Regions from separate parts of the Homo sapiens genome. Here regions 2, 3, 4, 5 and 6 are each reported to be linked to region 1. Evidence: microRNA targets listed by miRTarBase, many of them from high-throughput screens and not tested one by one. Region 1 holds a microRNA gene; each other region holds the end of a gene's coding sequence.
What was found. The annotated mature microRNA hsa-miR-7156-3p reads CUGCAGCCACUUGGGGAACUGGU and lies in region 1 at 1,416-1,438, shown strand. An mRNA with a match to its seed (bases 2 to 7 or 8) in the 3' UTR can be bound and repressed. Matches are read on the target gene's strand: a 7mer-m8 pairs with bases 2 to 8, a 7mer-A1 pairs with bases 2 to 7 and ends in A, and an 8mer does both.

Region 1 (4,000 bases):
GAGCTGAAATAGTCAAGTCCAGCAGCTTGGATGGACAATAAGTCAGGTTGTGTGCTGAAAGCCAGGCAGTGGACTGTCTCCCTGGGTATCAGATGCTCCCTATCAAATGGGAGCTGCAATACTTGCCTCAGAGGGCTGATGAGGATGTAAAGGAGATCACATCAGTTAAGCGCAGAAGCTGAGCAGGTACTTACAAAATCAGTTGTCTCAAACTTAGCTGCATATTAGAATCTCAAGGAGCTTTCCACCATTTGAATCTTCTAAAAAGCTTTGTTGTTATGATATGTATTATTTAAAAATATGTTTATTTTTGTTTCAAATAATTTTAGAGTTACAGAAAGGTTGCAAAAATAATACTGAGAGTTCATATAACTTTTATCCAGCTTCCCCTAATGCGGATTTGCATTCCTATGGTCCAATTATCAAAAGTAAGAAATTAACATGAGTATAATGCTCAGCTAAACTACAGGCATTATTGAGATTTTACCAGTTTCTCTACTAATGTCCTTTATGTCCTCCAAGAACGAATCCAGGTTCCCTTTGCATTTATTTATCAGGTGTCCTCAGTCTCTAAATCCATGGCCGTTCCTCAGGCTTTCCCTGCATTTCATGACACTTTTGATGAGGACTAGTCACGTATTTCATAGAATGTCCTTCACTTGGGGTTTATCTAATGTTTTCCTGTGCTTAGATTGAGGTTATGCATTACTGAGAAGGATACCACAGAAGCCATAGGCCCTTCCCAGAATCTCATAACAGGAAGTATGTGATGTCCATACGTCTTATTACTGGCAATGTTAACCTTCATCACTTGGTTAAGGTAATGTCTGCTGGGTTTACCTATTGTAAAGATAGTATTTTTCCCTTTGTCATTAATAAATAACTTGGGAGAGATACTTTCAGGTTATGCAGGTAGCCTATTTCTCCTCATCTTTTTCCCCATTAATGTTCTGTTCATTTGGTGCATCTTGCCTGCGACAATTACTGCAACGTTCTGAGGATGGTTTCCTAGTCCCTCATTTTTTCTACATTGTTTATTGGAATTTTTCTGTCTTGAAATGCTGTTTCTTCTCCTCCATTTATTTGTTTATTTATTCAGTTATTTATTGAAATTATCATGGACTCATGGATATTTATTTTATTTTATTGGTTTTATAATCCAATACTGACATTGTTTATTTTGGTTCAAACCTAAGACACTTTCTAAAATACCTGTGCCTGAGTTCCTCTCCAAGTCATCCGAAGCAGAGTCTATGGGGTTGGAGCATAGGTATTTCCTTAAAGCTCCCCAACCGCACTAAATGTTAGTTCCCTCACTCTCCCCACCTGCTTCCTCTAAAAAGAAAAAAAAATTCTTCCTCAAATCATTCTGCAGGGCTTGTTCTCAAACTGGCTGTCAGAGTGTGCATGGCAGGCTGCAGCCACTTGGGGAACTGGTTCTGTGGTTATCTCCATTCCTGCCTCCCCAGCCCGCATATCCTTTCCTTCAGCTCACGGGGCCCACAATGGGAACTTGAGTACCAGAATTCCTTTTACAACTGCTTCCTCATGTGGAAATTCCGCTGAGGTTTATTGTAGTTTTCACTGAGGTCAGGTGAAGGAAGAAAAAAACTAGGGCAGTCTTTAGAAAGTCAGGTTTGAGAAAAGACCCAAGGAAGTATGACCTTCAGCTAGGAGTGTCTTTCTAAATGGCATAGTGAATTTAGTGAATTCCAGCTGATGGCAGGCTCACAGCTGGGGTAGATGTTCCTGCAGTTTCCAGCGCTGCCTTCTGAGTCCCAGAAAGCACTTTTCTGCTGCTTGGACAGAGTTTTAACATGTGGAAACAACTCGCTTACATGAATAACTTATCTTGACACCTCTGAAATCACAGTAACCAAATATGTAAATTTAATTCTCTTTTTAGGGGATCAATATGGAGTCAGATAAGTTTTTTTTCCAAAGAGATGGTCTTCCTGAATAAGGAAATTGATCCTGTAGCATCTTTAGCTGGTTTCCAATTGCCCCCTACTCCTAGGTGCCGAATCAATCTTATGATATTTTTAGAAACCTAACTGTTTCTTTAGTCAGATTGATGCCAATAAAATGTCCAAAACTTAGATGAATCAAATTTAAAGTGATTTGTGATGGAATAAAAGCTTAACCCCAAGCATACCATGGCAACATGAAATTGGCATGGTTCCCCCAAATTATGCCATATGAATATGGGAAGATATGTCTCACAAATTCTTATTTTTTTCTTCATAGTGGTCAGCTTCAACCTGAATTTTTGTTAGAAGGCATTTTTTGTGTTAAAAACACCTTCTATTAAAATTTTAATGGGATTCCAATTTCTAGGGTAAGTAAATTAATAAAATCTGCAATAACTAGTCAGGAAAGGATCCAGTGTTTCACTACAGAACATAGAGATAATTCCAAGACGGGCATATTAGAGATGCAAAGTGTTAATTCAGCATAGCATCCAAACCAGGATAAGGAATGTTTAGATGCTGCATGACAAAAATAAATCTCTCTTCCTGGAAGAACTTTAACCTAAGAGGAGAAACAGCTCAAAGGTTTATTGTTGTCAGAGCCAAAAACATGACACCCCTCTTGATAAAAGACTTCGATCCCTGACCCCAGTAGAGTTGCTACTCTAAAAGCTATTTGTGTATTGATCTCCTCTGAAGAAAACGAATAGGTGTCTGGCAGGATGAGCATCTTTGGGAAACCAAGTTATTATACTTAGAGGAGAGCCCAGGTGACCAAAGTGGGAACCCTAGGGCATCAGGCTCTGAAAGATGATTTGCAAGATGCTGGGAAGCCTGGGCCTTTTCTCTTCTTAGTCTCTGCAACAAGGCCAGTTGCTGAGCATAGCTCAAATTAGGAAAGTTTGTCTGCCAAGAAACCTTGACTAATCTTACCATTCATTCTTCAAAAGACAGAAGAGGTGGGCTAGACTGGCCTGTTTTAGAAACCAGTCTGAGACCAAGACTCTTTAGTGCGTAAATATTTATTAACCCTCAAACAAGGGCACCTACCACCCCCACATGTTAATCCTATGCACACCATCTTGAAGAAATGAGCCAGTACTTCCTGTTTGAGGCTGAGACAGAGATATAGAGGCAGAAAAACACTCGGAGACTCTCAGGCCACCAAACAAGGACTGAGGATGTAGAGTTTCTGGACTAAAAGACTGTAGACTTTGAGTACATAGGCCCTCTGAAGCATCAAAAGAAAAATCGTGGCCTCTTGTTTGCTGTCTTCCTTTTTCTCCCATAGGATCAAACTAAGATCATCAACTTTCCAAACTCAGAGAAGAAATTTGCGTTTAGCTGCTAATTCCATATAAATTTAGAAGTTTGCTATTTAGCTGCTAATTCCATATAAATTTCTTTCAACAACATAATTTTTAAAATTATTTATTAAGCACCTACCAGGGACTGTTCCAGGAATAAGACAAAACACTGCCCTCATGAACACCCAATAAACAAGTAAACAGCAACAACAATTCCAGACAGCAATTGATGCTATAAAGAAAATGAATTCAAGTGAGATGAAGTGAGGGGAGCAAGTGTCAGGTAAGGCCTCTCAGAGAAGGATATTACTTGAGCTGACACCCAAAGGTGAGGAGTGAACTCAGAGAGGGTATTCCAGGCAAGTGACCACCATCAAGTGCAAAGGCCCTGAAGTAGGGATGAGCTTTGTAGAGTTGACCAGAAAGGCCAGTATGGTGGGAACATACTGGGAATCCACAAGGCTGGGTGGATTAGGAGAAGACTTAGAAGGGGAGCCACATCATAATGCATCCCAGCAGCCATGCTCTCTGTATAACTGGAAGCCTCTGGAAGCTTAGTGGAGTGGGGAATGGGAATGACATATTTTGTTTTGGTAATATCTCTGCAGCTGCTTATGGTAAATAGACTGTAAGAAGAGTGAAAACAATACTATTGTTGTGACTTATTAATATGTAGGGTCTAAATCTGAGGAGACTGAATGTTCTGCAGCTCATTTTCAATCT
Region 2 (5,458 bases), not on the chromosome of region 1:
CACATACCGCTAAGCCTACTTGGGGCTTTGAAGCACAACCAACTGCAGCTGAAAGGCAGGCTCTTGTACTCTCTCCCTCACTCTAGGGACTATTATTGCTTTCTCCATGCAGATTCTGCTATAAGCACAATAAAAATCAATGAAGACTTGGAACAGCTAAGACTAATATTTAAAAAAACGCTGAGGCTCCCGAAGTTCACATTCTTGCAAATTTTAGATAATGCCCCAAATATAAGTCACTCTTGATCATATACACACTCCTGTGTGTGCAAGCATAGTGTTCTAGCTTTCTACCACTCTGACCCAAATACTCACCCACGGTGTGCCTTCCTCCCAAATCCTTTCCTCTGGGTACCCTAAAACCTGCTTCTGAGGTAAAAGCCCATCCTAGAGCCCCCGCTTCCTTCCATTGCTCTGTTGAGCCTGACTGAAGAAACCAACTGTAGATCAATGAACTTTCTGTCACCTCTCTTCCTAAACCAGGCCATACACTGGAGGCCAGGATAACTATCAGTCCAGGGCCTTGGCTACTTCTAACCTTCTCTGGTCAAGTCAAAAATCTGTCTTCCAATTTACTGAGATAAATAAAGAGTGCAGGGTAACTCCCTCAATGTCTCTTCTCCCATTTCAATCTCCCTTTCCTCCAGTCCTTCATATCAAAAGGCACGTCCTTCCCCATAAGACCAGTTCCTCCAAGCTGATGTCTAGAGGAGAAGACATTGAAAATGAGGAAATCAACAGATGGTCGTTGTAGTAATACAAGTGAGAGGTAACAAGGGCTGGAACTAGAACTGAGGCTTCAAGAATGTTAGTATGTCCCCTCAGCCTCCCTCAACTGGAATTTTCAGAGAACCGGCAATCAGTGATATAACCACTAGCACAGGTGTGCATGCCCTTGCAAAACTAGTATCAGAGGAGAAAGGAAGAAACTTTACAGCATACTTCCATTCTCTGGAAAAAGATGGTTGAGAAGAGGCAGAAAGAAGAAAATAGTATAGAACAATGATCCCTAAAATTAGATTATGTAAAGTAACTTCATAGAATGTTGGAAGAAAATGTCTATTTATATTTACATTTCATCTTAAAAGAGGAGGAAATTACCTTTACTAACATTTACTACAGACTGACACTGCTACCATCTCTCCAGTGACATCGACATCGTTTGCATCTTCTCACGATCTGTAGCTTAGGTGACCCAAGGGCAGAGTGGAAGTCCCAACAGTTCCCACACTCTTTGGGTTGCTTTTAGCATGCAGCAAACCGAAGTTTATTTATGTCAAGTTGGGTGAATGTACAGATTTTTATTAACTCTTCTGAATTAAATAATCTTTACAAAAAAAAAAAAGGCTTAAACAGATCCCTGCAACAGAACCGTGGATTTAAGATGTTTATAATGCAAGAAACAAACAAGCAATAAGAAAAATGGCAGAGACAACGCTTCTCCTAGAACAAAGGAGTTAAATATCAGGCGTTAAACCAGAGAGAATCTCATCTGATTTGGCAAAACTCAGCCACACCAGGAGTTAAACCAGAAAGAGTCTCATCTGATTTGGCAAAAACTTGGCCAAAATAATTATGAAGACTATTTGAACTAAGGATGTACACCAATGTTGTTAGGATAAATTTTAAGATTAGAGTGAGCCCTGAGAAATTAGCTAATGATAAAATATGTGCAAATAATATCTTGGGATAAATTAATATATATATATATGGGGGTGTTTGCACAGAAAAACTTTTACTGATAAGAAGATGCCAACCAAGAAGTCTAGAGGCCATTGGCATAGAAGTTGGAGTCTAAGGCTGTGGGAACTACATTTCCTAGTCTTTGCGCTGGGGCAAAAATAACTGTACTTTAAGATTAGTAACATTCTAAAAGAATGTTTTATTTTTATTTGGGGGAAATTGTTGAAAACTTCTTAACCTCTATTTTATTTTCTTCTCTGTTAAAGTCTTTTAATTTGCAATAATGAAGTATGATAAAAATGTGGGTAAACTAATATTATTCCCTTAACACACTTTGCTTTACATATATTCTTAACTTAGCACATGAGAAGTAGTAGCAAGAAAAAAAAGAAACCTATTTTTGTTATACTTCACCCTAGCTAGACACTCAACATCTACATAGACGTTAAGAGTTACATAAAATCAACCAAAGTTGCAGAGTTTGGTAGGTTAAGTCAGATATTTCAAATAGTCATACAAACTATTTCCTGCCCAAACACCTTGTCCTTTACTCTACTGACTTCCAAGCAGATTTTGGTAACTGACAAGTCCATCCTCAACATGCCTGAAAGGACCTTAGTTACTAAAGTATTATACTAAAAGACAAAGCTCAAGTGTCTTTGCCTTCTTTGTGGGACCCCAGTGGCAGTGGCATCAGACATACACAGACAAGCAGGCATGGCAAATGTACTGTTTGGTGGTATCAGATCACCATTTAACAATAAAAACACACATTTCAAAGCACCTTGTCAAAAAGGAATAGATAACTGTATCTCATTACAATTTCCCTTACTACAAATACGGAAAGCAACTTTTAAAATGATCCAAAAAAGGAAACAAGATCCTTTCTTCTCCTCCGCCTCCTTTTCATTTTACAGGTCAATCCCGGACAGCCATGGGGGCACTTCCCAAACTCTCCCACCTATATCCGAGACTTGGCCAGGCCCATCTACTTCTGCACGGATGTCAAAGAGGACAGTCCACTATTTCCAAAGAAGGTAGCAGTACATGCGAATTAGGAGCTTTGATTTTTAAAACAAAAAAAGTCCACGATTCAACTTCCCTAATGCTTAAGATTCAATTTTTCCAATTAAGATTTTTAGAGTTGAGATTCACTGTAGTGTTCTTTTTTTTAAAGAAAAAAAAAAAAAAAAAAACGAAAAAAAGAAAGAGAAAAAGAAAAGAGAAGGAATGTGTGTAGGGTGGGGAAGAGGTTTCTGTTACATTAACTGAAACTTACAGGACACTAGAGAAGTCAGCCTGAGGCTCTAGGACTATTAGCACAAGAGGAAAGAAATGAGTAGGCATCATGTCAAAGTTTGAAAAGCTCACCTGGGGCAAATACTGACAACTGGGAGCAGTTCCTTAAGACTTCTCTTATTTTAAACCACTTATCTTTTCCAAAAAGCTTATTTTACTACTTAAAAAGAAAAACCCCTAGCTCTTTCGGAGGGGTAGCATAGAAACAGACTGAGATAAAAATCATTGCCTTAAATTTGTCTTTGAAGTGGAAATGTGATCATATGCAAAGCACTAAAGGAATAAAAACAATTTCAATTGCCTTCTAAGATGACATGTTAATAATCAAATGCATGAACTAAATAGCATGTGATCTCATAGGTTAGAATTCCCCTTCTCATCAAGGGCTCCCACCTGAGACCCATGCCTGGACAAAGAAGGGATTACTATTGCTTAAAAATAGCACCTAATTTATGCCAATAGAAACTCCAGGCTCTTCAGTGTTGGCCTCCACTGAAAAGGCCAAGAAAGAAAAATGTAATAATGTTCCCTTGAATCTGAACACCATCAGTGACATTTGCTACAGCAAATCCACAAAGTTATGCAGAATGTTGGGACCCTCATACCTAAAGTTACAACCTGCCATCCTTCTGAGGATATCTGATACTATTTTCATATTCAGGAAAATTTTACAATTTGACTTTTAAATGTACAGAGGCCAGAAGAATACTACTATATTACCTTAATTAAATCTGTAATCCTGCCACACATCCCTTGCTTTTTAGTGACTTATTAACTGATTCCCTCTTGAAGAGGGGAGGGCAGGAACCTTATAGTTTCATGTCACTTACAATGGCTGGTGCATGGCTAATACTTATTAGAAATATTTGTTGAAAGAGTGGTTAACATTATTATAACTCCCTGTTTTTGATGTCCCCCAAATTTACCCTATTTGTTTCTTAGTAAACATATATCATACATATAACCTTTATTTAAAACAAATAATAGAAGAAGTTCACTTTAAATAATCAGGTATTCCATATATTCAAGTGAATATGTTTTATTAAATGCATACTAATATCTTTCTATAGTATGTGAGTACACATAATAAATTAAAATGTATATATTTATTAAATATAGATAGATATAATACCAGAACATGATTATTTCAGATGAGAAATCAAAATAAACCCATTTTTAAGTATCTTTTGGTCACTCCAAATTGATATTGCTCATAAAAAAATACACTAGTTTTCCCTGGGGAAAAAAAATTAATTCCATAGCAATGCAGTTAAGGGACGTGTTTTATTTCATAGCTTTCTGCAAGCAAAATTGCTCTGATACAAAATGAGTTCAATGATACAGGTGCTACTGTCCACTCAAGCAAAAGAAAACCTCACATGTATATGAACGCACTTTATACTTATATTCTTACAGTATAATAGGTCTAATATCCAGGATGCCTCTGGCCTCATTGAAAGCAATGGCAGAGAAATGCTGCAAGGTACTTGAATATCATAGTACTGGCAAGTGCTTGAAGTAACTTCCTGTGAGTTCTCTGTCAGATACTGCAAAGACTGCGTGTGGGTGTGTTTGTCTTTTTGTCTTCCATCTTTTGGTTTACATTTAAATCATCTCAAAAAATATCCCCTGCATGTATCATTCAGCTTCTCAGAGTTTCCATAAAAACAGGAAAATGTCATGAGGTATCCCTAACGTCAGGGATTGATGTAGTGCTGTGGCTGTCAGAGAGGATGTAGACTTACCTGTAGGTACAGTAACTGAGTTTAGTGTGTGCCCGGCACGTTACAGTGCAGAAATGTTAGTTCATGTTAAACTTTTCCTCCTCACATATGATGTGACTTTAACCCCAGAATATCTGACAAAAAAAATTATACAGATAAAATAAAAAGACAAATACACAAATAAGGCCATCTGCAGAATTTTAAACTCGCCTCTTGCAATATTTCACAAGAATTTCTACACCATATTTTACATCGTTCAAACTTAAATAATAAATGCTCAAGGAAGGGCCTTGGTAGAACCAATTGCACTATCTCTTTGAGGACTTGTCCAATTTGCTGGCAGGTGATTTCCTCTGGGGCGTGGGGATTTTTGAAGGCTTCGCTGTGGATGGCCGAGAACCTGCTCGGGGTGTAGGTCTGTGTGTCTGGGGGACAGTTTCCACATCTGAGCACACGGACTGGATTTCTGAAATGTCAAAGTCTGATGCATCACTGCCTCGGCGGCTGCTGGCCCTGCTGCCAGCTTTGCTTCCAGCTCGACTTCCTGGTCGGCTGGGAGTCTTCTTGGAATCTGAGGAAAGAAGGTAGAGACAGCTCACCCTTATTATTGGGTCCATCTGCAACTAATTTTTGAAACCCGATGCCACCTTTAATCTTAACTTTTTTTCCTGGTGTGTAGTAGGCACTCAGAAAACAGTTGTGGATTCACAGCCTTTCTCTATTACACAAGGGTATGCAGGCTTACTCTAAGT
Region 3 (5,565 bases), not on the chromosome of region 1:
AAACTTCCTCTGGGCAGAAGCCTCCCCAGCTGGCCTGCGGCTCTTCCTGCCTTTGCACGCCAGTTGCATCTCAAGGAAACAAGACTCAGCTACCAAAACTTAGTGCTAGACCATGCTGTTTCCACGGAACACCAATATTTAGGTGATAATAAATTATTACCAAGGGAAAGGGGCTCTTGTGAGCTAAAGCTCATCTGTAAAACCTGTCAATCTTGTGCAGAATGTTGAAAAAATGTCACTCTTTTCCAGAAATCTCTGGGGTCTGTCTTACTACTGAAGTGCTACCTAGAAAAAATAATAAAAATTTAACAAATTGCAAAGGATGAAATCTTCTGCATAGAAACCAGGGGGTCTGGCTGGGGGTGGTGGCTCATGCCTGTAATCCCAGCACTTTGGGAGGCCGAGGCGGGCAGATCACGAGGTCAGGAGATCGAGACCAGCCTGGCTAACACGGTGAAACCCTGTCTCTATTAAAAAATACAAAAAATTAGCAGGCACCTGTAGTCCCAGCTACTCAGGGGGCTGAGGTAGGAGAATGGTGTGAACCCGAGGTGGAGCTTGCAGTGAGCCGAGATCGCGCCACTGCACTCCAGCCTGGGCGACAGAGCAAGATTCCGTCTCAAAAAAAAAAAATAAAAAAATAAAAAAAGAAAAGAAACCAGGGGGTCACGGTCCTTGGAGATTTAGCTCCCGGCGGACGTGCCCTCAGGTGGAACCTACCCCACCTTCCAGCCACAGTGGGGACGGACACTTGGCTGCCAGTTCTCAGACATGAGCAAGGTTTTAGAGGACACTGTAAGGGCACACACAACATGAAGGCCTCATATAGCTGTGCAGTGACACAGCCTTGTGCAACCACCACCATCCTCTTCAGTCAGCGTGAATGCTGGTGGCAGGATTCCTGGAGGTTCGAAAGCTTAAGATCCTTATTAGGCACTTCTTGGGTCTAAAGTGCTCGGTGGCGGAGGTGTGCTGGTTGACCGCAAGCAGACTGTCAACGGGTGAAAGCGGATGGTATTCGTAGAGAAAAGCTCCAGTGGGTCTTTCTGCAGTACTGAGATTGCTGACTGGGGAGAATCTTACCCTGTCCTTCATGTCTTCTGGAAACCAGATGGTCAGTGAGGACACAGCCATGGCCAGGGAGAAGATTCCTGACACATCCGGGAGTACCTGAAGGGCGGTGTGTGCTGGGCTGCCCGCTCTTCCCCTAAAGGACAACTTTGGCACGTTGGCAGGTGGGCTTTCTCATGACCGTGAGTGGCTCTAACCTCCAGCATGAACAAGGTATTGGGCACTGACTGCAGCCTCAGAGCACTTCCCGATCAGGACCTTGTTGGAGCCTAACTAGGAAGGCTGGGTGAGAACTGCACTACTCCTGAGCTGCCTGAAGTGCAACGTTCTGGAGCTTCTTTGGCAAGGGGAGGAGGGCATTTGATGGGGGATTGTGGTAGGAAGTGGAATTTGAGCTGAAGCGTGAATCCAGTCCTCAGCCTGGTGATCCTTATAAGTGGCCAAGTCACAAGTTATGACTTAATGGGCCCTTGTCACCTTTGGGGAACTACAACGTACAAGTAGACTGAACTACTTGACAGAAATAACAAATAGGACATTGTTATTCGGATGAAGTGTTTTTGGCAAGAGCATGTCCCTTGCCTTCACTCCAGAGAATAAGATTTCATTTACTGACAGGGGTTAAAGTCGAGGGCAGGGCTGTGAACTAAGGATTACGAGGCACCCTGGAAGGCAGACGAGGGACATTCTTTACGGTGCCAGAGTTCTTGTGCCTGCTTCCACGGTCCCCTCGCCTTCATGATCATTTCACATCAGTAACCTGTGAATACTCCGGGCCGAGTGTTCTAGTTTAGCCTCGCGGTGTTGCTAACAGCGCAAGAGAGGATCTACTCCTCAAACGTTAGGGTCTAAGAAATGGTACCATTAAAAGGTGTGATTTTACTCAGGAAGGGTAAGGAAAACATGAGCACGGGGGCGGTGGGGGGGAAGTGAAGCCCCTGAACAGGGAAAAAGGCAGACAGGAATGGGTGTTAACTGTCCCTCCACTTTCAGTTGGTGATAAAATTCGGGCTTGTGTGTCTCCTGATGAAGCTGTTCACAGTAACACAAATGCAACTGTCTATAACACATCATAAAGACAGACAATGCTGTTTCTCCAAAATTTTATTTTAATTTAAATTACAGGGCCAGCCAGATATTCTGATAAGAAATTCACTTTTCCTTAGGAGAAAGAAAATGCTTTCATGGCATTGTTAACAAATGTATACATCTCCACTTTTTTAAGGGTTAAAAATCACATTAAGTAACTGCCTTATGTAAAATTAAACCTTTATAACACAAAAACCACTTCCAGTATAATAGTCTTGGTAATATGAATATATTAAATGATCATAACTTCAAATGCAACATTTCAAACTTAAATGTTTTCACATTGTTTTGCTTAAAAACAAAACCCACGAAGTCTGAACTACCTTCAGATTCCAATGTAAGAGTAACATGAATGTTGTGTCTGACACGCTGCACCCTCACTTCTTCCACCTAAAAGGCTACGACCTCACTGCCAAAGTGGAAGCTGTTCTAGATGTGTAAGTTCTAAGAATGAGCTTGGCAAGAAGACGTTTCTTCCACTTGGTGTAATCCATGTTTTTACACTAACTCCATACACACAGCACTACACCACAAAGCCAGGACACCACATCACGGCCAAGTCTTCCTTCCTAAACATCCAAGAGATTTTTTTTTCAAGGAGACTAGATTGCCTTATTTCACACAGATTCTGGTAAAGACAGTCTTGAGAAATGCCAATTATGATGTAGACTGCCATTTTAATAAAAATAAAATATATCTATATTTTCTGGAGCTATTTTCCTAACTGGTGTTCCTGAAGGTTTAAAACCTGCTGAAACAGCAATTGGGAGGCCCATTTTACTGGCCAGTATATAATTCCATTAGTAAGAGAGGCTAGCAAAGAATAATCATATCAATTTCTTAATCAGCTGCAGCCATGCTGAATTTGAACTGGCAAACTCTGATTTGTCAGTTGTTAGTTGTGATCTTCATATCACTAAAATGAACAGATACCATTCTAATAACTTTACATAGATATAGTCTAGAAGACATTGTTCTGCCGTGGTCACAGTAACAAAAAAGTGGTGCAAAATCAGTTACTTTATAAATACTGATAATTTGCAGCATTAAGGAACAGGACATTAAAAAAAATAAATTTCCCCATAGGACACCTATGACTAGGAAGTCGTCTTTTCCTAAGAGAAGCCAAAGTTTTAATTATTCAGTTCACAACTATTGTACTGGGTTACTTAGTCTAAGAAAGAAAAGGTGCTCTACAGAGATTTCCCACACACACAAAGAATCAGCATTAATTTAGCATAATCTCTATCATTCACAGATCTGGCAGATTCATTAACTCATTTAAAATGAATAAGGCCAATAGGATGCAGGAAGGTGTGGCTGACTGAGCTCCAGGGCTGTATCGCAGCTTATTGATGGCACCCCATTAGGTAACTGAATACAAAGGACTGGTTTACTTTCTTTTTCTTTTAATGCTGTGATACTTAAATGTTAAATCAGCATTTTCATGTGATCTGAAGTATTTCAATTACATATGAGCATTCATTGTTTTTTGCAAAAACTCAGTATTAGGTAATAGTTACATACTACTACAATAACATTCCTCTGCTGTACAAATTAAACCATTTAAAAGAAATGAGCATTCTAAGAATTATATACAAAAGAAACCTTGAAGCAGTGTTGAAATGAAATGCAAGGTGTCATTGCTAGCTCTACTGTTTTAAAGTATCTTTGAAAAGTAAAATTAACAAATACCCTTCAACATATCCAGGTTTACAAGTCTCAAGAAAATCAAATGTCAAAAAATTCTAGAAAGCTGTGAAAAGCATATATACATTTTCCTTATGATCTTATGAGGCTTCTTTACACTTTTAAGAAGTTGCTAAGTTTCAGTATCAATTTATTCGCATGTCAACTTTAGCTGCCCCCAAACTCCCATTTTGGATAGCTCCCCTCTGATTTCAGATAAAGCTCTGCGTCATCTTCCTTCAGCGAAGGTGCGCGACCTGAAGGTGCGCGATCTGACGCAGGGATGCCAGGTGTGCACTTGCCACACTGCACTCAGATCGCCAACAAAGATGGGTGCAAACACATAGGTCTAATCTGATATCAGTGCCCTCTTTCCTAAACCACACTCTCATCCATACATTTGCCTTCATGAACCCAGCCATGTTCAGAACTCCCGTAGCACAGTCTTTGAATTCTGAAATGACACAAAGATCAAGAGAAAGCCCACATGTGCCCTAGTGTGCAAGCAGCAGCAGCTACGATCTCCAACCTGGACTGAAAAACAAAAGGGTAAAATGAAAAACCGTTCACTTAACAGCAGATTAGCAGTAATGTTCCTCATGAATCAATAAGAGTGCCTGATGCTGAATAGCTAACAGCAAATGCTGAATTTGGATTTAACATAGATGTTTATTGGAGATTAAGCTTCTTGCTGAGCTGGTCTCTTCAAATCCCTGATCTGTTTAACTAAATAGGTCTTCTCGTCGTTAAACTGCTCATCCTCCGTCCTGTCGTTCTGAAACTTGCTGAGGAACTCTATGAGTTTGGCCTGGTTCTTGAGGAGGATGTCTAGGATGGGCTGCGTCTTGTTAGGATTGGCTACAAACACCTGCGTGGAGAGAAACGCACATGAGGCACAGAGAAAGGACAAAACGCAGCCACACCTGAGCTGCGGCCACAGTGCAGAAAAGCAGAGCTGTGCTCTCCTGGGATGGCGCTGAAGTCAGGGTCATTAGGTTTTGCTTTAGAAGGCGTTATTTTACAATTTGGAAAAAAAAATAATAATTACATGTTTTAACACAAATACGACTGATAAACTCATTCTGCCAGCCCTGCAACACAGTGTTTAGTATTAAATACAGACTTTGATTTTAGAATAAAATGGGCAGAAATTATTTCTCAGCACAAGAGGTCAGATGGGATTTTAAGAATGAAACCTCCACAGAAAGCATTAAGAAATGCTTTTGTTTTGCAGTTACTAATCTTCTAGGCCAAAGATAAATGACACTCTTCTATGAACAAACCTTCTCGTTCCCAGATCCAAACAGTAACCCGTTTCCAGGTCTACCTTTCTGTTTAAAAGTCATAGCACACAAATATGAAAAGTGACTGAATTTAATTAAGTCACCTGGATTACCAGAGTGAGGCTAATAATTTCCGTTATTTGCGAATGAAAGACGACGAACAATTCCAGTGGACAGTATCACTGATGCTTCTAGTACTCTACCTTAAAAACGTGAAAGGCCTCAAACTGGATGTTGCGACTTTTGTCTCGCAGCAGGTTCATCATTAATTTGAGGTTCTCAGGTTTACTGATGTATTTTGTCATAATTGTGAAGTTGTGTCTATCTAGTAGTAGTTCACCGAGAAGCTGAGAAGACATTTAAACAATTACCTTGTTATTAAAACTTAAAGAAAAATCAAAGTTTAAAAAAACAATTTATTTTATAATCATCA
Region 4 (5,565 bases), not on the chromosome of region 1:
TCCAGCCCAGTTTGCATTTCCATATAAACTGAACCTGCACCCCCTCCCTCCTTCAAATGTTTGCCTTTCAATATTTTGTTAGGCAGGCAAGAGTCAAGAGTCATGCCAACTCTAGTAATGTGGCCTCTGTTCAAACACCTACCACAGTGTGGCAAAGGGAAAACAGCATGGGCTAAGAGTGGCCTGGATTCAAATCACAGTCCTTTTATTTACTTTCTATGTGCCCTTGAGTTGTTTACTTTAGCCCCCTGGGCCATAATTTCTTTCTCTGTAAAATGAGAATACTTGCATGAATATGAAACACTGAGCAGTTAATAAATACGTGCTTAATAAATGTTAGGTTCTTTGTTATCCCTGCCAGTTCATCACTTTCAGTTCATCCATTGCCAGATTCTCTAACTTGCTGGCCAAGGTATGTTGATAATTTCCTATAGCTGCCACTCTTCTATTATCACCCTCTTCCCATAGCCTCTGCAAAATGACTGCCCATCCATTAAGCCTAGGGCAAGCCAGTCTCATTCCATGATAGCATGCCTCGCCACAGAAGCTTTTTGCACTTTAAGTCAGAGTGCCAAAGGCAGGCGTTGAAATTCATTCTTTGGCATTCTTAAGGTATAGACCAGAGCAAAGGCAGAGCTACTCAGCCACTGCTCCCTGGCCTCCAGGCAGACTGCTGGTCCCCAGCTCTCCAAGATAGGCCCTTGATCTGTGTCCCAGGCAACACACAGCAATCTCATGACATTTCTGGGACATATTTTCTACTGGGATCACAGCAGCTTTCTAGGGCTCTCAATAATCTTCCAATGTTTGCATCGGTGATTGTGGTATTTTCCCCCAAGAAAACCAGAGTCAAACCATGTTTCTTTAAAGGGACTGTGGCCCTATTAGCCATGCTTTCATGGCCAAAATCTGCACACCTGTCTGCTTTATTCAGGATAGAGCAGGGAGGCCACAGCCCTGAAACAAGGGCTCAAAAATCACTTCCTAGGTGAGGTCAGTAAGGCCTCACAGAGACTACTATTGGGGGCAAGCAGCAGGTGAAATGATGGTCACTTGACTCTTTTACTCCTGGTTTCTTAGCAACCTGGCCTTTGAGACTGGGTACAGTGGAGTGAGTTCAACCGGGCCACCTGGATATGCCTTGATTTAGAATGGCATCAAGTTTCCACTCAATTACTTTCAAAAAGGCTCTCAGTGTACTTGGCCTTACATGTTCCTAACTCACCAATAAACCATGTTTGGAATTCAGTCTTGAAAATGACTACTGCCTTTCAGTAGCACTGTTCCAAATGCATCTCTGAGTGGGTTTGCACATGAGTGTGCATGTACTCACTCTCTATCTCTTTATCTAGGTTTATCTGTCAGTACTATAATCAGTGCACTAACAGGGCCTTGGTAGAAGAGTGCAAGTAGGAAAGCTCTTTCCCTCACACTGGGCAACATTATAATTATACAGACGCTACAGACAAGCTACGGCCCAGGCATCTGCATAGAAACAAGTACTGATGCTCTTTCCAGCAACTTCCCTTCAACAAACAGGAATTAGAAATGTCCATTCCTCAGATTTCTGCCCCATTACACCAATTTTTAGGTCCTTTCCAATAATAGAGATAGCAAATGAAAGGGACCTGGCAAGGGTTTATGTCCTAACATTTTTCACTTGGTGGCAAATATTCAAGAAAAAGGGTAAAAGCCAACCCCCAGAAATGATGGCCACTAAAGCCACAAACCACAAGGTCCCTTGCTAGATAAGTGTGATATAATGGGGAAAAAAAACTTGCATAGGAGCCTGGGACCTGAGATCTTGTACTGGTGTGATCACTACCTTGCTCTGCCTCAGTTCCCCCGACTGGAAACTGGGCAGTTGTTAGACTAAATGATTTTGAAAAGCCCTTCCAATCAAGGGCTTATATGGATTGTAAAAAGAGTATTTTACTCAAGTGCTGTGGTTCTTGACTTTTTTGGGTCACGAGCCCATTTGAAATTTAGCAGAACATTATGGACTATCTCCCCAGAAAGGGCATATTGTCATGGAATTGTGCATACCATCTCAGGGGCATCATGGAGTTTCTGAGTCCATGGACACTGGGTTAAGAACTGCTTTTTTCAGGAGATAAAAGAGTTTATGTGCAGAAGGCAAACATGAAGCAGCAGTGACAGCTGCCTGGCCTCAATCCACCTTAACAATTTTTCTAGCATTTGACCCCAAAATAGAACTCCTACAGGACCAAACACAGTCTCCTTTTTTTAAAAAGAAATGTGTTCAGCTTTTGTTTGTTTCTTGATTGCTTGACAGGAAGCTGTCAAAAAAAAGGAGAAAGAATAATCCAAATAGACCTAGGCTTTTACATGCAAAACATGCTTTGCAGATTTGTCCTAAGTGGCTGCATGTAACAGCAGGAAGGCCACCTTCCTAAGTCCACATGGAGGTGCTGTGGGGGCATCACTCATCCCACTCATAGCCTCGCAGGAGCAGACGGGCTCTTGGCAACATACTGCAGCACCAGAGCGCTGACATGGCACCAGTGTCCATATCCTCAGTAGGAGACATGTTGAGATTCTCCAATGTTCAGCAAACATTTCTATTCCCTTCCAACCAAGGTAAGCAATGGCCCCAACTCAAGTGGCCTTCAGTTCAAGGTAAGACCCCTGAGATCAGTCTTTAGCCCCAAATCTCTCAGAGTTCAATGGCCCTCTGAGGAAGCAGGAAGTTCAGGGAAGAGTTGAAAACTGAGCTCCCCTCTTCAACTCAGGTAAGTGGATATCTTGGTTTTGGCAGAGTCTGGCTTGAGGGAGTCCAGCTCTTCACAGTGTTATAGGAACTCAAAACAGACCTTCTGAGGGGATGAAGACAGAATACAAAGGAGATATAAACACCTGTCTAGGACATATGCTCCTTATTTTATGGCCTCCCAGAGAGAGTCTGAAAGTGCAAGGCTAGGAAGGAGCTGCTCTTCAACACAAAATGACTCCGCACACAAAGGTTTGAAGAAGAAAGACTCTTTCAGAACCTGGAAAGGGTCCTCTGAGGCCAAGGCTTTTAAAACCTGAAAGAGAAAGAAGAGAGTAGGGAATTAGCGAGGACTGGTCAAGTACTTAACAGCCACTGATCAGTGGGGCTTCTCTTGGTAGGTAGCTAAGCCTATAATTGGTAGCTCATCTTCTGAGCAACAGCGGATTGCTGGGCAAAGGCTCTTACAAGTCAAATCTCATGAAACAGGCCTAAGATGGTGCTATGACCAGGGCTGGACACTTTGTGCCTTTGACCTCAACTCAAACTCCCCAAAATCTACATGGAGAAATAGAAGCCTGATACTAGAACCTCTGAGATTTCTTCCCACATCATGCCCACTGCCTTTATGGTCATACAATAACTATAAACTTCCTTTTAACAGGGACTTCACCTCCATAGGGGCTGATAAGGAGAAGCTTATCTACCCACGGACCTCTGAGGACTGGCAGTGACAGGGAAAAAAAGAAGGTTAGGGAGCACATGAAAAGCCAAGCTCCAGATACTTGGATCTCATTTATGTGTGTTATCAGGTCACATCATGCCAGCAATCTGATAGTCAAACAATCAGAACTCCTATGATAGAGAAAGGAATTTCCCTGACCTCTGAGTCTCCTGTGACCTTTGCAAGTCACTTATCCCCTCTGAACTTCAGTTCCTTTATTTGTTGAGTTAGAACACATATTATCCTCCCTTCTCCTGGCATGTGATATGCATCAAATGAAATAATGAATGTGAAAGTGCTTTGCATTGGACAAACATAAAGGACTAAGAATGAAGGTTCAGGTGGGTAAGACTGAAATAATGATTTGGTCTGCAGGAATGAATCCATCTACAGACACTAAGGTAGCCTCTTGGCATCTGTTATAATATCAGAAAGCATGTTCCTGGTTTCCTTAAAGGCCCGAGAGGTGTCAGAGTTAGAAGGTTCCAACCTTCTCATTTTAGAAACTGGGAAACTGAGGCTCAGAGAAGTAAATGTACTTTCCCAAAATGTCACAGCCTAGGATTCTTAATAAATTTGATTCAAAGGCAATCTGTAAAAGCGTGCCATAGTTTGGCTAGGAGAAAAAGAAATGAAAGAGGAAGGTTACTTAAAATCACACAAAACCTTGGAATTGAAAGTCACTAAATTTAAGGGTCAGGCAGTGATAGAGTAATGAACTGAGGCGTAGAAGTGAGTTCCCACCCTTCTGATCTACATGTTATTCCAGTCCTCAAAATATCAGATCCCGTAATGAAGGCTTATGTGGAACAAGATTTTGTAATCAGGGATGGGGACTGCATACCTGTAGCCTCAACTTTCATCTCCAGGAAGTCTGCCTTGAGAACTGTGGATAAAGAAAGACGTTTCACTAAGATTCTAGAAATCAGGACTGGAAAGGTAAATTGGGGGAATGGGGGACACTTCTAGGCCAGTGCTAAAGAGGCCATTTGAAAAATGGAGAAGTGATTCAGCCCAGATGTTTCAAAACATTTAGCTCCATGCTTATAGTTGGGGCTCCTTCTCTGGCAGGCTTAAAGAGATGTGAAGACATCTTTCAGGTGCCAGAACAATTCTCTGAGTACCAGACTATGTGAAGCTTGGAGAACCCAGGGAAGCTGGCTGCAGACCACGAACTACATTCTGTGATGATCTCTAACAGGGATAAGGGTGAGGACACAGACAAGTACCATGTGAAAGATGAATCCTCCTTTGCCTAGAAGACCAAACCAACCTTGTCCAGCCTCTTGATGTGCTTGGATTAGTTCTAAATTACCCATGTCTGGGGACAGCTTGGGGAGGAGAAAATCTTGGCAAATGAAACCCACTCTAGTGTGGCCAGAGCATTACGTACAACAGCTGGTCCCCAGGGCTATGTCCTCAACCTTCTGTTTTTCTCTTCTCTCCAGTCTGTTTACACTTACTCCCTGGAGGATCTTATTCCCATCCATGGCTTCAATTGCCACCAAATACTAGGGACCTCCCCACAACAGGCTACTATTCACATTGTAGCATATGTGACTAGCCCCACTCCCCAGACTTATATAGTGGCTATACTCATATTTCTAACCCCCAAATCTATGTATACATACATCCAGCTCCAACTGCTAGCCTAAGTTGCAGTTACCCACTGAACATCTATCTCTACCTAAGTCTCAAAGTGTCTTTAAAAAATTTGTATAAATTTAACAACTGTGTCTTCAAAATCACTGTGTCCAAAATTGAGCTCAGCATCTTTCCCATAAAACCTGCTTCTCCATGATTAATTATTGTACCATCTACTTAAGTGCCCAAGTTAGACTTTTCTCTTTCTCGGTTCATCAATGTTCCATGTTTGAAAATGTAGCAAGGTCTTATTGAGTCTTTCTCAAATCTGTCCCTTCTGTTCCATTCCCACTGGGAATGCCATAGGCCAGGGCTTCCCCAACTCTTGCCAGGACAATTAGTCTCCTTAACTGGTCTCCAGTCTTTACTCTCCCATCTATCTTTCCCACTACCAAAGTGATCTTTTTACAACTTGGTCAGCTCAGAATGTGACTGTCATTCTTGAAATTCTTCCCCCCTTTCTATG
Region 5 (5,565 bases), not on the chromosome of region 1:
AGCTGCTTAACCCTTCCCAGGATTCTGCAGAGACATGGCCAAAGAGCAAGCCAAGAACTACCATGGCCAGGTGTGGTGGCTCCCGCCTGTAATCCCAGCACTTTGGGAGGTCAAGGCAGGAGGGTCACTTGAGGCCAGAAGTTTGAGACCAGCCTGGGCAATATAATGAGACCTCGTCTCTATAAAAAATTAGCCAAGCATGGTGGCGTGTGTCTGTTGTCCCAGCTACTTGGGAGCTGAGGTGGGAGGATCGCTTGAGCCCAGGAGGTAGAGGTTGCAGTGAGCCGGGATCACGTCACTGCACTCCAGCCTCGGCGATGGAGCAAAACCCTGTCCCACCCAGACCCCCTAAAAAAGAACTTCCGCCACCACGTGCCAGTTGTTCACTTCCTATCAGGCATCGTGCTGAGCTGTAGTATCTCATTTAATTGCCAGCCACAGTACAGGGAGGCAGTAGAATTGTTCCCGTTTAGTAAATGAAACTGCAGCTCAACAGAAGCAAGTAATCTACTCCAGGCCTCACAGCCAGCAAGAAACAGAGCTGAGATTCCAACCCATATCACTCTGAGTCTGCGAGAACGGCTTATTCCTTTGCAATGTGCCTAGCACCTCCCACCCTTTTAGCTCTTGCCCCGCTCTCCCCTCACCACTTCTCCAGGTTGGCTGACTCTGTGACTCTCTTGGCTTCCAGGTGATTACCTCGCCCAGGGCCTGAAGCTCAGCCCTGGCCAGGTCCAGACCTTCCTGCTGTGGGGAGCAGGGGCCCTGGTCGTCTACTGGCTGCTGTCTCTGCTCCTCGGCTTGGTCTTGGCCTTGCTGGGGCGGATCCTGTGGGGCCTGAAGCTTGTCATCTTCCTGGCCGGCTTCGTGGCCCTGATGAGGTCGGTGCCTGACCCTTCCACCCGGGCCCTGCTACTCCTGGCCTTGCTGATCCTCTACGCCCTGCTGAGCCGGCTCACTGGCTCCCGAGCCTCTGGGGCCCAACTCGAGGCCAAGGTGCGAGGGCTGGAACGCCAGGTGGAGGAGCTGCGCTGGCGCCAGAGGCGAGCGGCCAAGGGGGCCCGCAGTGTGGAGGAGGAGTGAGCCGGATGCCCCACACACCGCCAGTGTCATACCAAAGAGCTGAGCTGCTTCGGGGCCATGCAGCCCTCCTGCCAGCCCCCTGCCCTTTTCTTGCCCTGTCTCTGAACCTTCAGAACATTGATCCTTGCCGCAGCCCCACTAGCCAAGAGAAACAGAGAAAGACCATTCCCCCTGCCTGTCCTTGCGGCCCTGTCTTCTGAGGTTCTCTGTCTGGGGTTGGCTCTCTTAACCCTTTCTCTGCTCCCAGCCTGCCTCACCAGGGAAGGTTGGAGGGGCCTCCCTCTGGCTTCTGCATCTGCGCCAGCAAACATCACTGCCGTTGGTCTCTCATGACTTAACTGGCTTCCCTCTGCTGCTGCCTTGGCTTCCTCCTAATGCTCGTGCTCTCCTGTCCTTCTGAAGTTGCTCCTTGGCCAAATCTCCAGCTCCCTTCTTGTTTTCCTCATCCTCCTACCCTGTACTCCCACCAAACCATGGTCCTTTAAGGCACGCTCCTGTCCTCCTCATTGCCCAGCAGTAGGGAGGGGCAGGGGTAAGGGGACCTGAGGATAAAGGGTGGGGAAACAGGGTCCCCTGAGGCCTGTGGGGGCTGCAGGGGAGGAGGATGTACCTTGTGTCTCTTTCAAGTGCCTTAATCCGAGCCAGCAGGGCCTTCTGCTTGCCTGCTGCCATACTGTATGTAGGAAAGTGTTCTGTGGCTGCTTTGTGTCAAGAAAAGAGCAGTCACTCTCAGAATCTTGATTCCCCATCAGCCAAAGCAAAAGATGGCTGCTGCTTTGTAGGCATGTGCCTGCAAGTGGGACCTTGCTGGGCATTATATGCCCTGTGGGGGTTTCAGAGACCCTGAAAGAGGAGGGAGGACCCGCCTCCTTGTCTGCACAACTGCATGCACTTCTCTCCCCATCGCTCCACAACCTGAAACCGAGAAGGAGTTGCTGACCAGTGCCCACCCCGGCAGCCCGGGAGGAACACAGGCAGCTCCTTTCCCTTCACGTGGTCTGCAGAGAGCAGGGTGAGCTGCCAGCTGCCCCTCTCCACCAGGGTACCCTGTCTTGGTGGTTAGGGGCCACTTTTCCTTTGAGGCTCTAGTGGAGGTGGATGTCCTTCTCTGCCAGGCTTGGCACATGATGTGAAGAATAAATGCCCAATTCTTACTGTTCAGGTTTGATGTGGAATCACAGCTGCAGTGATATATATTTTTTATCAGTGCTTGGTTGGTTTTAAATAAAGTGCACGCTATTTTATTATCTTGTTCTGAATAAAATGTATTTACTCCAAGTCTGGATTGCTTCCATGTCTCCTCTACTGCTAAACCCATTTCTGTAGTGCAGCTCCGCCTCCCAATTTCTCCCTGTGGGGGCAGTGTGAAGCTGGCAGAGGGGAGAGCTGAAAAGGCAGGCTGGTACCAGGTACCCTTCCCTCCAGGAGCACAAGGAATTAGGAAAGCATGCCCCCATTACAAAACGTAGGAACGACTGGCACTGCTGGAAATGCGTGTGCTTGCTGGGCAGAGGGGTCACCCCTTCCCTGCAGTGTGCTGAGGTGGGTGGGCAGCCTGGAGAAGACTTGCCTGCCCTCCCCTTCACCACCCACCTGAGGACTTTCCTGTGCCAAGGTTTCCAGTCGGCCCACAGGCTGGACCAATTTTGCGGAGGGCCTCAGACATAATTTTTTCTTTGTAAGCTGCCCAGGGCATGAGAGTGTGCAGCTGGGGCCCCTGCTCTGGGCCTCTCCCCAAACTGCCTGGTAGGCAACACTGGGTCAGGACCCTTGAGGCTGGCCTTCCCTCGGGAGTGTTGGGCAACCCTCAACCCTCCTAAGCGCTGCAGGACGCTGCCCAGGTGGAGCTGGTCAAGAGACTAGAGCTGCCTGCACCTAGAGCCCTTCCTCCACGGCGGTGGCCTAGCTCTGTCAGGGCAGGCTCAGGTGGTTGGCATCTGGCCCCGTTTGACCCCCTCCCTCCTTTCCTGTCCCTGCAGCTCCCGTCCCATGTGTCCCTGAATTCTGGTTCTGACTCAGGTGTCAGATGCCTTCACAAGTGAGCTGCTTGTGGGGGTGGGTGAGGCAGAGAAAGTGGCTTTTTCTTCCCTGATCAGAAGCTTCCGTGAGGGAGCCACACAGAACTCACCGAGTCCCTCCTGGCAGAGGCGGCCGTCCTCTGTTGCTTCCAGGGACGTGGCCCTCTTCCCGACCTCGGTCGCCTGAGCGCGCAGGGATTGGGGATCCGTAGGGCACTAGGACCCGGCGGGGCGGAGGGGGCAGCCCATGTGCTGCGATTCGCTCCCTCCCACCCCACTGCTCCCGCTCCATTGTCTGGGAATTGCAGCCGCGGGGCGGGCGGCGGCGGCGGCGGCGGCGGCCGGGACCCAGCGGGCCAGGTGGGGACGGCGCGGAGCGGGTGCGGGAGATGCCGTGCGGGACTGGGGCCACCTGAGCCGCCCGCCTCGTCCCCGCCTTCTGTGGGAAGGATGTGCGCGCGGATGGCCGGTCGCACAACAGCGGCCCCTCGGGGGCCCTACGGCCCCTGGCTCTGCCTCCTGGTGGCCCTCGCCCTGGACGTCGTGAGAGGTCAGCGGGAGGGGAGGGCCGGGGCGAGGGGCGGCCGGGCCCGGCCGAGTGGGAGCGAGTGATGCCCGGGAGCCACCAACCTTTGGGTTCTCGGACTGAACCCTGAGCGGGGTCGCCCCGCAGCGCCCTGAAGGTCGGAGAGTTCTTGCCCTCGGGAACCTGCCCCCAGCCACTCGCCCCTAAGGCTTCCTTCACCTTGCACGACCCGGCAACTCCTTCCTGACCCGGGGCAGCCCGGCGCAGGGGCTTCCCCGTCCCGCACCTTCTGCGAGGGACCCCTCAGCCCGGGCATCGAACCCGGCGGCCCCGGTCCCGGGCGCACTAGCGTCATCCCCACTCCCTCACTGTGGTCTGTAGCGCTGCACCCTCCTAGCCTCCTTCCGCCGCCACCAACCCACCCCCCTCGGGAGTGGAAAGCAGCCCCTTTGCCTGGGACCTGCAACAGACGCAAGCCCTCCCTCCCCCTTCCCCCAGGGCTCCCTGACCTTGGCGTCTCCAGGGATGGCCGCATCCTTGCCTTCCAGAACCTTTGAGAGGATTCCTGTCACTGCGGGAAAGGGCAGCAACTTCCCTGTGCTTCGGGGTGGGGGTCGGACTCCCTTGGCCTGGGCTAGCTGGGCTGTGGCTGCAAGGCAAAGGATGCCACAGAAGACAGAGGGACAGTGAAACATTCTCTGCCCTCCCCACCGAGAGAGCCGAGCGCTGGGTGATGGGAGTCCGTGGGAGTCAGGCTAAGAGCATCTTGTAATTATGGAGGCAATGGAGTAGGAGGCGAACCTGAAGCCAGTGGCTGCCCCCAGAGAGCAGTGGTCACTTGTTACGCTTGGGGCAGGGGGCAGGGAGAGCCTGTCAGTCATATGCTCCTTGGTGGGGAGGGCCAGGAAGGAGGTTGAAACCAATTCCCCCACCCCCACCCACAGTCCAGCTGTGGGGCTGAGAGGGAGCTAGCTGTGGGGTTGCTTTCAGCCACCTGCTCCCCATCCCGAGGGACGCCATGGGAGTCCTAATAGAGAGAGGAGGAAAACCTTGTCAAATCCATTATGCAGCAGCAATAATGCCTGCTCCCTCCAGACAGCACTCCACAGTTTACACAGCCCTGTCCTGTCCACAGTGCCACCTAATGCTCCTGCCCCTTTTACAAGTGAGGAAACAGGCTTCAAAATGTTAATGCCTGACCCAAGTTTCATCAATTTAAATTCAGGTCTCCAGGCTCCCAGGAAATCCTCTCTAGGGAGCGCTTCCTAGTTTGGGGGAATTCCAGGATGAGCAAGACAGGGTCCCTTGTTTATAGGAAGATTACTAATTCAGAGGAGGCACCCAGGGTTGCAAAAGACAGGAGACTGGTGGGAAGGTGAGTAACCAAGGAGGGCTTCCTTCAGAAGGAGGCAGTATTCACTCATGGCCCTGAATGAGGAGGGAGGTGCCACCGGGCAGAGCAGAGGAGAGGAGGTGCGCTCCAGGGCATGAAGCCTGCAGGGTGCACCGTGGCAGTGGAGAGTGGAGAGAGAAGTGGCAGGTGGAGACGCCGGATGGTCTAGTGGCTAATACCTGGGATCAACCCCCAGCTCCTTCACTCTCCAGCTGTGGAACCACAGGCAAATACCTTAACCTCTCGGCCTCATTTTCTACATCCACAAAATGGGATTCATCATAATAGAACCTGGTTCACAGAATTATTACAAAGACTCAAAGAGTTCATATACATACAGTATTTAAATTCTCACCTGCATATAGCATTCACAAAATGCTAATTATTATTATTAGTGCTCATAGTTAGAGCAAACCAATATGGCTTAGTGCTCCTTTGTCCTTCTGATGATTGACTATTTTGACTGTCTTCCCCAGGCTCCTGGTCCCCACCCCACCCCCAGGGCAAGCAAGTGCCTTCACAGACCTCTTCAGCACCTTCCGCGC
Region 6 (5,565 bases), not on the chromosome of region 1:
AAGTTAAGAGATTAAAGGAAAGTAGTAATAGCTGAGAGCAGTTTTTTTCATGAAGATACCAGATGTCAGCAAAACTAAGGCAGTGTCCTGAATTTTGCACAAGAATGTTAAGCTATAAGCAGGGCAAACATCATGGAGGTAGAAAACCTCTACCAAAATCCAGTCCAGATAAGACATCAGTTTTCTACATTGTGACTCAATGTGTAATCACCTTTTGGAGGTGGAAGGGGTATATGAGGCCAGTGGGATCTGATTTTTCAGGGCAGTCATAGCTCAAGGACTGAGCTGTTCTGGTTTTGTTTTTCTTGAAAACAGCCACCCACAACACTATTTAACAAACCAACCGACACTTTAGCCATACTCAACTGAAAAAGTAAAATGGTTTACAGAATATTTCATACTACCCAGGTACTGCAATACATGTTCAGGAATTCTGAACATCGATATTTGTGAGTACATGAATGCAGATATTTTTCTGGGAAGTTAGTTCATAGCTTTCATCACCTTCTCACAGGGGTCTTTTACTTCCAAAAAGTTAAGACTATAATAGAACTCACTAAAATTATGTTTTTAATAATGAATCACTGTATATATATATATGGATATTTCAAAATTCACTTGCTAAAAATTACTTGCTTGAAATCACGCCAGGGAGGCAGTTTTAGAGTAGACTGTCAGGTTGTATAACAGCCTGTTATATAGAACTAAACATAATACTTTAAAAAGAGAAGAATCCTATATATGATGTTACAAGGTAAATAGCTATTTCCATATTTTAAAAAAAAGGAAAAGATCACGAGATGACATTTTATTCAAATATATACATGCATTTCTACCTTAATATTTGTGACCAACATTGTGTGAGACCAACATTTGTGACCTAACTTCTCTACTAGGATCTACACACAACAGAAATTGTTTATAAAACTTTGCTTTTTAGATTAATTCTAAAATAATTTATAGTCACCTGGAATATTTATGCACAATATAAAGAGGCTCTAGATGATTTCATTATATTCCATATTTCTGTAATTTTATATTACAAAATAGTAAGTGGGCTCATTATTTAATTTTTCCAAAACATAGCTTTATTACAGCTTACTGTAAATCAGATACACCTTTCTCTGTAAACATTTTGTATGCTCATTAAAAGTTTGCTTCCCTAAATGGGCATGATGAACAAATATTAGCAAAATTGCTCAAGAATATTTTCCTTTGAAAAACGTATTAGTCTTTGAAAAATTACAGGTCTGTTCTAAAAAATGCTGCAATATGGCAATTTTAAAGTCATTCATTCCATCAAAAATATTCCTATTTTAAGTAAAAAACCTGATTTTAATTTGTCCCTACGAAAAGCCTAAGCACTGTCATACTTAGAAAAACTAAAAGATGGTAGAAACAATTAAGATCTAATGATCCTAATGTTCAGATAAAACTGGAGTGTTTATGTCCTCAATAATGAAGTATTTCCTTACTTTAGAGAAAGTAATCTAGCATCTGACTTAAGTGAATAAAGCTGAAATATTCTTTTGCCAGTGTTCAGGTAAATCATACAGATCAAGGAACTGACAAGCTAACTGTATGTACTTCTGGTAACAGGTGAGTGAACAGTTAAAATTATTAAAAATATGTAATTCCAAGGCTGAATATGCCATTCCCTCAAAGTAAAACCAGTCATTTTAAAAGCAAAAAAATTAAAAAACAAACAAACCCTCTAATGGTCAATTCAAACTGGCTGCATAAATTGAGTTTTAATGGCTACAAAATCTTTCAAATTGCTAAGAGCACATTTGATTTAACTGAAGGACTGTATTTAGGATGCAAAAAACCCCCCAAAACCCAGATTAGTGGCAATGTCCCATGTGACAAAAAGCTTTTAGACAAAATGACAGCTGTCTTTAAAAAAGTGCAAAGACCAAGGAGGGCAGATCATGAGGTCAGGAGATCAAGACCATCCTGGCTAATATGGTGAAACCCCGTCTCTACTAAAAATACAAAAAAATAAGCTGGGCGTGGTGGCACGCGCCTGCAGTCCCCGCTACTCAGGAGGCTGAAGCAGGAGAATCACTTGAACCCAGGAGATGGAGATTGCAGCGAGCCGAGATTGAGCCACTGCACTCTAGCCTGGGCAACAGAGTAAGACTGTCTCAAAAAAAAATAAAATAAAAGCAAAGAGACGATACCATTCCCCCATCCTCCAAATAGCATCCAAGCAAATTCCAACATCAAGATGCAATCAATTTCCAAAAAATTTATTTATACTCTGTATTAACCAGTGTTTCTCTTTTCCATCCTCACTCCCTAAGGAGTCTTTTTACAATCCTAATCAACCACCCCCAAAATTTTAATACCACAGATATGGTATCTGTTTAAGTACTGTGTGTATATTCATGCTTTATACATCAAGTTTTTGTCCCCCAGAACAATCTTGACAAGGACTGCGTGGCGCTAACAATGAAAAGTTTATAGTATTAAAACTTTTTTATTTGAATAAGTGGGGAGAAGAGAAATATATTTCAGCACTTAGATATATAAATTATTTCCAAAACAGTTTAATACTCAACTAGTCGGTTCTATCAAAATCAGTTTTCCCTGAAGTAAGCACTGTTCCCAGCTACAAGCGATCCTCATTTCACATGGTACTGTGGGACCATAAAAATGGTCCTGCAATCTTAATAATCAATAGGGAAAATGATGATTGTTCCATGACCTTTAAGGTTCTGCTCAAATATTAAAAACTCTTAAGACCAGTTATAAATGTAGAAAAAAATGCAAAAATGTTTAAAAATATTTAGTACACTGTAATTTAAAACATTAGAAATAGAATTAAAGTGTTTTATTTCATTGTAAAAACAAAGTAGTTTGAATAGGGCTTGCCTTTTTTTCTGGCAAGTAACTTACCATACTGAGTAAGCATCTTTTATGTTCACGGCAAACTGCCATACTCCTTCTAAGTTTGGGTCAGCTTCCACCCTTTTATTGCTTGTGCTTTCAATGTTGTGAAATATTTCTATATTCACATTAAATATCTTTTAATGTAAAGTTTTTTTTTTTTAACCATCACTTCCTCTGGGACGTATCTGTCTTTATTGCAACCACTTTGCTTATTTGTGTTGGTAAGTTTGCCTTCACTAAGCTCCTATGAATACACAGCAGCAAGAACAACATTCCCATGGTCAGTGACTTCTTCTACAAATTCATTTATGTTTGATTAAAATTTCACTTCCAGTGTTATCATTTTTCATTGCTTTGCTGCACTTTCATCTTTGTTGACCAGTTCTTTCGAGTGTTCACTTCTATAGAATGTCAAGTAGATGACAGAGAGACAGCATAACTACATGCTCTGCTGTACGTGAACTGAATTAACAGATGCACAGGGACAAACCACTGGAAGAATTTGAAAGAAATAACATGACTGGTCACAATCATGAAGCATATCTGTTATTTACATAGCGATTTGTAGACTGAAGAGCTAGCAGAGAGGTTTGTACTTCATGTAATTACTCAGTTACAATGTGCTAACTAAAATTTTAACCTAGATTTTAACAACAACAGTTTCCTTACCAGTTTTCTTTCCTTCCTGGTAAGGAAACTGGTATTTAAACTAAATCTAGGTCACTGAAATTTGTGCCCATGGGAAACATGCAAATAGAGGACTGCCTACACCCTACTTGTTTATATTGATCCAGACAGGCTTAACGCTGACTACTGAAAAATAGCCTATCTGAATTTATATCAAATAGTGAATCTTAAAGCACCCAAGATGAAAAATTAGGGCACACTGAGATGGTTTTAAAATCTTTGTCATATGATAATCAAGCTTAAAATGTATCTTAGAGTAACAGATTTTTAGAAATAAAGACCTTTAAAGGCTCCATAGTTTGGTACCGCAGATTATCCAGCATGTTTATTATGAATTATTTCTCCTCCTTCAATTTCAATTTGCTCATACAGCCACTTGCGGTCACAGCGGCATTCAGCTCCACACTTGGTAGAACCACAGGCAGGACAAGCATAGAAACATCCTAAGCAGTCTTCATCCAGGCAGTCACAGAGGTCCATCCCACTAAAAATCAGGAGACCCTGGCTATCATAGACCTTACTCTTTGCTGGTATCACTTGTCTGTAAAATAAAACACAATGAATTATACCTCATAAATATGTTATTTTTGATTTAATTGAAAATACAGTAAAAAAAAAAAAGGAGATAAAATATTTTTAGATGAGGTCATGCCAAAATCATCTATAATTTATCAGGCTCAAGGCTTATTCTATCGTCAGCAGTAAATGAACTCCATGTGAGAAGAGGAGACCTAACTCTATAGAGTGTTGAGACAAATCTAAAAATTCTGAATACGCTTCTTGAAGTGCATAATTTTCCCTTTACTTTAAACAAACAAAAAAGAATGACAGGTTAATAGTGGTTCACTTTATTAGCTACCAACCTCTTCACTGTTTTATCAACACAGTTTTATTTTTATTATAGTATACCACCTCTATAGATTTTTATACTACAATTAATGTTTCTTGTTCTTTAATGGACTCTAGTAAATTTGGCCTAAAAATATTTAAATGACTCAATGGTAAATTTTAACAGATGGAATACATGGCATATATAGAAATGTTGACTGAACTTAGAAAAAAAATTCTGAATGATTATATTAACATTTGTTTTAGAGTCATATTCTAAACAATTTAGTTCTCCCATTCATTATGTTGACTATACAGAACTGCATTTCTATTTCAGACATGTAAAAAATAAAAACCTTGCATTCTCATAAAATGTAATTACCTTTTAGCTGCTACCCATAGAACGGAGATATATGAATTACAGGCACATTTCGGAGGTATTGTGGGTTTGGTTCCAGACCACCCCCAATAAAGTGAGTCACACACACACACACACACACACATATATATATATATATTTTTTTGCTTTTCCAGTGCATATAAAAGTTAAGCTTACACTATAGCCTATTAAGTGTGCAACAGCCTTATGTCTAAGAAAAAAATGTATGTACCTTAATTTAAAAATGCTCTATTGCTAAAAAATGCTAACAATGATCTGAAACTTCAATGAGTTGTAGTTTTTTTGCTGGTGGAGGATCTTGCCCCAGTGAGGACAGCTGACTGATCAGGGAGGTCGTTGCTGAAGGCTAGGGTAGCTGTGGCAATTTCTTAAAGACTACAGTGAAGTTTGCTGCATCAGTGGACTCTTCTTACAAAAGATTTCTCTGTAGCATGTGATGGTGTTTGATAGCATTTTACCTACAGTAGAATGTTCAAAATTGGAGTCATCCTCTCAAATTCTGCCTCTGCTTTATCTACTAAGTTTATATAATCTAAGTCCTTTGTCATTTCAGTAATGTTAACAGCATCCTCACCAGTAGATTCCACCTTAATAAATCACATTCTTTGCTCATCTCTAAGAAGAAACTCCTTATCCATTCAAGTTTTATCACAAGATTGCAATAACTCAGTCACATCTCCAGGCTCTGCTTCTAATTCTAGTTCTCTTGCTATTTCCACCACGTCTGCAACTACTTCCTCCACTGAAGTCCTGAA

Region 2: the mRNA of DST is a reported target of hsa-miR-7156-3p. The part of its 3' UTR that is shown has no 7-base or 8-base seed match.
Region 3: the mRNA of CAB39 is a reported target of hsa-miR-7156-3p. Seed matches in the 3' UTR shown: 7mer-A1 at 3,199-3,205 and 7mer-m8 at 3,010-3,016.
Region 4: the mRNA of OPHN1 is a reported target of hsa-miR-7156-3p. The part of its 3' UTR that is shown has no 7-base or 8-base seed match.
Region 5: miRTarBase lists TMEM109 as a target of hsa-miR-7156-3p. Seed matches in the 3' UTR shown: 7mer-m8 at 1,671-1,677.
Region 6: miRTarBase lists ARL14EP as a target of hsa-miR-7156-3p. The part of its 3' UTR that is shown has no 7-base or 8-base seed match.

What each region holds. Positions count from the first base shown.
Region 1 is chr1:77,058,765-77,062,764 of GRCh38, forward strand. MIR7156 (microRNA 7156) reads left to right here and starts at 1,379; the gene lies at 1,379-1,438. The region is part of intron 4 of ST6GALNAC5 (ST6 N-acetylgalactosaminide alpha-2,6-sialyltransferase 5); the gene reads left to right.
Region 2 is chr6:56,453,991-56,459,448 of GRCh38, forward strand. It overlaps DST (dystonin), which reads right to left. Exons shown (of 104, transcript NM_001374736.1): 104 at 4,006-5,277. The coding sequence ends at 5,015. Among named protein-coding and RNA genes, the nearest start is that of COL21A1, 210 kb to the left of the region's middle.
Region 3 is chr2:230,817,668-230,823,232 of GRCh38, reverse strand. It overlaps CAB39 (calcium binding protein 39), which reads right to left. Exons shown (of 9, transcript NM_016289.4): 8 at 5,336-5,479; 9 at 2,158-4,717. The coding sequence ends at 4,529. Among named protein-coding and RNA genes, the nearest start is that of ITM2C, 44 kb to the left of the region's middle.
Region 4 is chrX:68,044,117-68,049,681 of GRCh38, forward strand. It overlaps OPHN1 (oligophrenin 1), which reads right to left. Exons shown (of 25, transcript NM_002547.3): 24 at 4,300-4,341; 25 at 1-3,047. The coding sequence ends at 4,308. Among named protein-coding and RNA genes, the nearest start is that of NXTAR, 260 kb to the left of the region's middle.
Region 5 is chr11:60,921,083-60,926,647 of GRCh38, forward strand. It overlaps TMEM109 (transmembrane protein 109), which reads left to right. Exons shown (of 4, transcript NM_024092.3): 4 at 692-2,361. The coding sequence ends at 1,083. TMEM132A (transmembrane protein 132A) reads left to right here and starts at 3,378. Exons shown (of 11, transcript NM_178031.3): 1 at 3,378-3,651. The coding sequence starts at 3,552. It overlaps LOC124902676 (a long non-coding RNA gene), which reads right to left and starts at 4,315. Exons shown (of 2, transcript XR_007062688.1): 1 at 4,137-4,315. RefSeq lists silencers at 3,274-3,633, 3,694-3,913, 3,954-4,023.
Region 6 is chr11:30,335,125-30,340,689 of GRCh38, reverse strand. It overlaps ARL14EP (ARF like GTPase 14 effector protein), which reads right to left. Exons shown (of 4, transcript NM_152316.3): 4 at 2,467-4,123. The coding sequence ends at 3,895. Among named protein-coding and RNA genes, the nearest start is that of ARL14EP, 15 kb to the right of the region's middle.